Linked DNA regions of Homo sapiens. The protein of the gene in region 2 interacts with the protein of the main gene of each other region in a biochemical or structural test. Each region holds a gene or a part of one and is shown on either strand. Other genes may lie near its edges.

The links.
Region 1: the proteins of CDON (region 2) and DHH are reported together in a solved structure, tested with the Homo sapiens proteins (one study listed by IntAct).

The regions. Positions count from the first base shown.
Region 1 is NC_000012.12:49,088,184-49,092,098, reverse strand, and holds part of DHH (desert hedgehog protein preproprotein), read left to right. Parts: exon of another isoform or gene 1-608; intron 609-709; coding exon 710-971; intron 972-1,614; coding exon 1,615-2,240; 3' UTR 2,241-3,915.
Region 2 is NC_000011.10:126,007,060-126,010,974, forward strand, and holds part of CDON (cell adhesion molecule-related/down-regulated by oncogenes isoform 2 precursor), read right to left. Parts: intron 3,636-3,915; coding exon 3,282-3,635; intron 1-3,281. UniProt on the Homo sapiens protein: Component of a cell-surface receptor complex that mediates cell-cell interactions between muscle precursor cells. Promotes differentiation of myogenic cells.

The DNA.
Region 1 (3,915 bases), on a different chromosome or scaffold from region 2:
TTTGTGGCCGGAGCTGCTGAGTCCGCTTCTCCCAGCGCGTTCCCGGCCTGGGCTCAGGATTCTCGCTCGGTTAAGTCATCCCGGATAATGGCCATTGTACTTCGCGCAACCCCCGCCACCCCAATCCTTTTTCCAGCAGCCTTGATCCCGCACAGCTCCTCTTGGGCACCTCTCTGGGGGGCACCCAGAGCACGAAGGGGTTAATGCTAAGGGCCCAAAGGAGGAGGAGGAAGGAAGGAAGGAAGCGATGCCCGGTGCCAGGGAAGGCAATGAAACAAAAGATGAATCAGGCGGAGGGAGGGGAGCCGGTGCCTGGGGCGGGGGCCAGGCTCAAACAGGGGCTCTCCGGGAGCAACCAGGCCCTCCCTGACCACGCTTCCATTCGCCCTCCTAACTCTGTCCTTCTCCCAGGTTGAGCCGCTGTCCCTGAACCAATAGGGGTGAGGGACGGGCATTAAAAATGGGGAAGGAGCTAGGTATGGGCACCCCCTCTCAACCTCAGAGGTGAGCCCACAGTTCTCCAACGACGTCCTGGGAACAGAGTGCAGATTGGTGACTACCATCGACTCAGATTCTCATTTCTCCAGGACACTCAAAAGCTGGGAGGGGTAAGAGTAGGGCCGGAATAACAAAGAATCAACCCTCCTATCCAGGTCCCTTTTGCCCCAAGGGTGGTGGTGGGGAGACTGACTCCTTTATTCCCCGCCAGCGTTGTAAGGAGCGGGTGAACGCTTTGGCCATTGCCGTGATGAACATGTGGCCCGGAGTGCGCCTACGAGTGACTGAGGGCTGGGACGAGGACGGCCACCACGCTCAGGATTCACTCCACTACGAAGGCCGTGCTTTGGACATCACTACGTCTGACCGCGACCGCAACAAGTATGGGTTGCTGGCGCGCCTCGCAGTGGAAGCCGGCTTCGACTGGGTCTACTACGAGTCCCGCAACCACGTCCACGTGTCGGTCAAAGCTGGTACAGTAGGAGGAGGGTGGTAAAATCCGCCCAAAGGGGGCTCCCTCCGGGAAACTGAGTCTGCAGTAGTACTGTTGCCACCCTAGGGGAGACCAAGCGGGCTTTAGTGTTGAAAACCACCCGTCCAGGCCGAGGCGGTGCCTCACGCCTCTAATCCCAGCACTTTGGGAGGCCAAGGAGGGCGGATCACTTGAGGTCAGGAGTTCGAGATCAGCCTAGCCAACATGGTGAAATCCCGTCTCTATTATAAATACGAAAATTAGTTGGGCGTGGTGGTGTATGCCTGTAATCCCGGCTACTCGTGAGGCTGAGGCACGAGAATCACTTGAACCCGGGAGGTAGAAGTTGCAGTGAGCCGAGATGGTGCCACTGCACTCCATCTACTGGGCGACAGAGCGAGATTCTATCTCAAAATACATACATACATACATACATACATACATACATACATACATACATAGAAAAGAGAAGAAAAAGGAAAAGAAAAGAAAGAAAAACCGCCCTTCCTTTTCTGCCCAGGTTGGGGCCAGTCAGATTAACGGAAAATTGTGTTGTCCATGACTGGCGATATCTGCGCTGGCCTTGAGAATCGTTCTGGAACCGCTGGTCTTGATTCAATCCTCCCTGTGGTTGTTCCCTGCAGATAACTCACTGGCGGTCCGGGCGGGCGGCTGCTTTCCGGGAAATGCAACTGTGCGCCTGTGGAGCGGCGAGCGGAAAGGGCTGCGGGAACTGCACCGCGGAGACTGGGTTTTGGCGGCCGATGCGTCAGGCCGGGTGGTGCCCACGCCGGTGCTGCTCTTCCTGGACCGGGACTTGCAGCGCCGGGCTTCATTTGTGGCTGTGGAGACCGAGTGGCCTCCACGCAAACTGTTGCTCACGCCCTGGCACCTGGTGTTTGCCGCTCGAGGGCCGGCGCCCGCGCCAGGCGACTTTGCACCGGTGTTCGCGCGCCGGCTACGCGCTGGGGACTCGGTGCTGGCGCCCGGCGGGGATGCGCTTCGGCCAGCGCGCGTGGCCCGTGTGGCGCGGGAGGAAGCCGTGGGCGTGTTCGCGCCGCTCACCGCGCACGGGACGCTGCTGGTGAACGATGTCCTGGCCTCTTGCTACGCGGTTCTGGAGAGTCACCAGTGGGCGCACCGCGCTTTTGCCCCCTTGAGACTGCTGCACGCGCTAGGGGCGCTGCTCCCCGGCGGGGCCGTCCAGCCGACTGGCATGCATTGGTACTCTCGGCTCCTCTACCGCTTAGCGGAGGAGCTACTGGGCTGAGCGTCCCAGGCATAGAAACCTCGAAGCGCCCGAGGAAACGAGGGCCTGCTGGCTGAGATATGGGGCTGTGGGCAGCAGACGATGCCGACTGGAAGGGAGGGAGAGGGAGGGGGAGGGAGAAAATGGGGCTATGCCTGGCTTAGGGGCAACCTCGTACTGAGAGGAGGTGATACCGGGTCCTAGGTAGGTAGGGCTGATGGTGCGCACTCCTTAAAGAGGACTATTTAGCCTCTCCCCCAGTGCTTCAGCCCCACCCGATAATTTTATTTTATTTCTTATTTATAAATTGTAATATAATGATTCCCTTGCCCAGCTTGCCAAGGTGAGGGGCTGGGGCATGGCATTAACACTGTCTGACACAGCCAGCCAGTCTGACATCTGACGTTTTCCTGCAAGGTGGGCTAATAAAGGGAAGGCTTTCAGGAGCTTACTGGAAAACACTTCCATTCAGAGGGTGATTCACCTCCAGAGAGGGGGATAAAGGTGGCCAACCTGAGTTAACAGCTTACTTCCGGCTCCCCCTCCTTCCTCAGCAGGGTCTTTGGGACCCTTTTCCTCCCTTCAGAAGGGGCATCCCAACCCATAAGCAACAGAGCCCACAAGAGTCGTACCCTTTTCCAGGCTGCTGTTTCCGTCTCCCATCCAGAGAGGACCAGCATTTCGCTCCTGCGGCTGAAGGGTCCAGGGTTGTCCCAGGTGGGAAAGACTGTGCACACCTCTTCTCTGTTTATAGGGGCTCCAGCAGGGGCTCAGGCCCCTATGAGTACTGATACTCAAAGCATCTAGTCCCCTATTGTTAGCCAGTAGTCCTGGTCCCCATCCTACCTTGGTGGCAGGGCCTGGATGGGGTGGATGTTTTTTCTGATATGCCACTGGGCCAACTGATGATCCATGGGAAACCTGGGTAATAATTTGCAATCGTCGCATAGTCATGGCCTGAAAAAGGAAGGGGGGCACAGTAAGAGGCTGGAATATTTCCTTACTGAAGGGCTGCTCAGAGAGAGAGAATGGATTCAGCCTGGGTGTATGTGGGGGAAGTAGATTCCCTAAACAAGGGCATATCAGCATTACAACCCGAGCTCCCCTCCTGATCGCTGGCCCTGATTGTTGTTTCTACTGGCTTGGTCTTCAGCGCCTCCTCCTCCCTCTCCCATTATCACCAGCTCTACTTCCCTAGCCTGGGTGTTTTTGGAACCTTTAGGTTCCAACGCAGTAGACACCTGGAATCCAGGCAGGCAGGTGCCCCTGAGTTAGGAATGGAAGCTCTGGAGGAAGCTGGGCTGCTCCAGAAGGGAAGTGTCTTGGGTGGAGGTGAGGCGGGGAGGAGGAAATAGTCGGGGGTTGTTGGTACCACCCGGAGCTCGCCCTTGCCAGTAGCCGCTGTGCGCTCCCATCGCACAGGGTCCCTGCTATACACCGCCCTCTGGTGGCCTTCAAGAGAATTCTAGGCCTATGCATATGGTTCTCTGAAACGGAAGGCAAGCGGTCTCAGACATGGAAGGGTGTACTGGACCTGCGCAAAGGAGCCCGCTCCCAGGAGGGAGAGATGATGGGTGGGCCTTGTTAAGCTGCCAGCGCTGAGTCACACATATCAGGAGCTGTCAAGGAGTCCACCTGCTTCTCCTTGGGCAAGTCGTTCCAAACCATGGCACTTTTACATCACTCCTGCCTAGTT
Region 2 (3,915 bases):
AAAACCTAAGGAGTGACGGCTTGGTTTCTCTAAAGTGCTATTAATACTGGCAACAGAAAATTCTATTTTTCACTCCTTTTGTGGAGGAAGAGTGCAGAGCAAACAACGTACTACTTTTATGTCCAAAATGAAGTCAGATTCCTGGTAAAAGATGGGTGTGTTTTTGGGAGAAGGGCTGCACTGCAGTAGAGAACCAACAGAAAACAGGACTGACAGTGTAAGGTTAGTTCTCTGTTAGTTTAAAAGAGAGAAAGGGTGTCCCAGAAGCATCCTCCATCAGAGAAAACAAGAAGCTAGTGAGGAAATAATGTAGAAGAAAACTAATTAAGTTCACTGAGACAACTTCAAAATATTGCTCCTGGAACAGCAGTGTTTATCTAGTGAGTCAGACTGCGGACTGATGTTCAGGGTGTGATCTGGTGCCTGCTAATGCAGACAGAAGGACTCGGCAAGTGGAGATAATTAACTGTGGCTTGAGGTAGTGGAGAAGGACCTTTTTATCATTAGAAGTTTAGTGGATCCTCCGGGCAGTTTTCCACTGGGAAGTGGGATCTGGCTGTAAAAGAGTTTAAATGCCACATGCCTCATACAGAAGCATGAGAAAAACGTTAATGCTGCAGCTTCTCCACTGTCTGAGTATCAAAATTCCATTTCTGTAAGACTTAAGATGCAATGAGACCTCTCCAGAACTTTTATTAAAAGGGGGATTCAATTAACTTTCTTCTTCTGTTTCAATGATATAATCTGGGCACTTGGGAGATACACTCAATACAACTGAAAAGACCTTACCAGTACTTCCCCGGTGTTTTTGCATGTATTATCTCAACTTATCTTCAGAACTCTATGAAATGGGTAGAACAGGCATCTAGCATCTTTTAAGGTAGAATGTTTTTTGAATCGGAAAAGAGATTGATGCAACTACGGCAATGTAAATAAATTTAATGACTCTAAGTGGAAACTAATTAAACAGGGAGGGAGTACAACCATATCTGTCAAAGATGCTCCCACTGTGACCACTGCTGCCAGCAACTCACAACCCAAACTATTTAGGAAACCCGCACCAACTCTCATTATAGTTTTAAAGAGTACCACACACTCTACAAATATTTGTACATCCAGGACCTCAAAAACCCAAAGTCTCTGGAAAAAACAAAAGGCTGGGGAGAGAGTTATCTCTCTCTCTAACCTAGCTTGCTCTCCCCTTTACAGTACAGTAGTCAAATGACTTGTCAGGATGCTAGAATTTCATAAGGCTCAGATTCCTATGCAAAGAAGTGAGTTGTCATGTATTGTTTTGAGTTTTAATAAACTCGGTTGGATCTTAATAATTATACTAGAAAATTAAAAAAAGACAACGTAGGACCTCTTTGGTAGAATACAGCTGATGGGGTTACCATACATAAAAGTAGTATTTATCGAGACATAAAATCCTGGAGCACAGGGGAATCTTAAAGATCTTCTAAAGTTAGTTCACATAACTTCAAAGGGCTTCCGATTTCTCATATTTAAGGTGAGGAAGTTCGACAAAATATCTAGTTTCATCAGCCATAAAACTATGACATCTGTCTCTCTACACCCTGTATTCACATAATCGCTTCAGCTAAATTCTACCCAAGGAGCTCCTGCAACTACACCTGTCATGCAGTTAACAATTTCGAGCAGAGCCACTCTTATTTTTGCCTAGAGGAATAGAAATATAAACACACACGCACATTCATTTATAGGTGCAAATTTATGTAACACTGAACTACTTTCTTCATTTAAGGATTCTTAATGTTTCTAAAATCAGTAACTATTTCTTCCTTCCCTTAACACTGCCACAAGAGATCACTGTAATTTAATAATAATTAGACAGTAACAATCATAACTTTATACTTAGTATCAATGGAGGGCTTTCTATTGCCAGACACCATTCTAAGCACTTACTACGCATTAACTCCTTGGATTCTCACATCAACCCTATGAGTGGGGCACCTTCACTATACCTGTTACACAGATGAGGAAACAGAACAGAGAAGTGCAGTGATTTGCCCTTGGGTTACAAAGCTGCTAAGTGGCAGAGCCAGGATTCTGACACAGCCCACGTGCTCAGCCTCCACATCTCTCCCACCTCTAACATGCACAAGAGGATAAGGGGAAGTCCCTGGTCTCCACCACTTCTCCTCCGCCTCCAGCTTCATTCAGAGCAAGGGCGTCCTTGTTTGCACGTGAAGGGAAATCGTATGTGCACATACGAACTCTTTTTTATTTCAACCATCACTCCTCTGCCAAGGACCCCCCGTTGACCACTGCTCTGGCTAAGGGTGCCCACACACTGGTCGTGTGGTCCAGACTGTGGCGGATGGGCCAGGGGAGAGGAACTGTGGGGACCAGACTGTGAACTCACTGAAGCAGGAAATGCTGGAGCCCCAGACCTGTCTAGAAGGAGGAATGTGGGCTCTGAGCTCAGCATAAGCACTGCTCCTCGACCCTATGGGCTCTTTAACCTGTGGGACCATGGCCCCAGGCAGAAGAGAGCCACGCTAAGCCCCTTAAAGCAGAGGCCAGGGTCAGAGACCTCAGTTACCCAAAACTAAAGGCAGTACTGCCTTTGATGTTGGGCCTCTCACAAGACAAATAAGATGACAATCTACACCCAACTGACTAGCTGTTGGGGAAAGCTGCCCTAAATGCCTACTGATGGAAGGTCTGAATTTGAATTAAGTCAAGTTTGAGTCCATTTCCATGAATATTAATAGTCTATATACCAGTACATCAAAAATCATATATAGTTTTTAAGTCATCATCACAAAAAATCAGTAAAATATGAAGAATTAATATTATACATCCCATTAGAAAATAACTTTGGATAAGACACAGGGAATATATACATACAGGTATTACTTAATAGTACCACAACTCTACATTCTCAATGAAGGCCAGTCCTTTAGACCCAATACTGTAGTTATCAAGGGCATAAAAAATGTCTGCAATATCATTTTCGGTAGCTTAGAAAACCAAAAGCATTCATCTCAAAGACAGGTTATATTCTGGGCCTGCTCCCAAATGAGAGCTTTCTGTATTGCACCTACAATCTTAACAAACACATCAGAAACAGAGACCAAAATTCATGTGATTCACATAAAGTGAAATACCAAGAAATACAGTTCTACATTTCACTGTCATCAGGAAAAAATATAGAGAGATTGCTGGATTCATTAAAATAACATATTTCAAATCACTTTATCTTCTATTATAAAAGGAAATTACTCAACTAAAAATAAATAATAATGGCAACTCACCAACCATGAGAGATGCTTCTGCCTGTGTGGTACCATGTTCATTTGCAGCTTCGCAGATGTATTTCCCCGCATGTTCCTGAGTCACAGCCTGAATATGGAGAGAGCTTGCACCAGCTTGGGACAGGACGAAGTACACAGGCTCCAGGTTCAAGCCCTCAGGTCTTGATAACTGTGATTTTCGGGATTTCGATCTCAGGACTTGAGATGGATGGCTGGTTATCAATCCATGGCTGTCATACCAACGAATGACCGGAACCGGCAGCCCACTGGCATTGCAGGACAGAGTAACAAAGTCTCCGTCTGCAACCTTTGCACTTACTGGTGCCGTAATTATAACTGGCTTGAATCCACCGTCTATTAAAAAAGTAATTCACATATGAAAAATGAAGAACATTGTAGTACCTACGATGCAAAACAACTTCATCCTATCACGTAAATGTGGGAGTAATGATTAAAACCAAGATAGCTACCTCCTTATTAGTTCCCTTCTCAACTTTCACCAAGTAAGACTGTCAATAAATGGTAGAGTTGTTTCATAGCTGTGGGCTCCTAAACATTTCCTACGTAAATTTCCTGTCCTTCAGAAAGAAAGGAATATATATAAAGAAATCTTTTGAGAGTTTTCTGAAGGTAC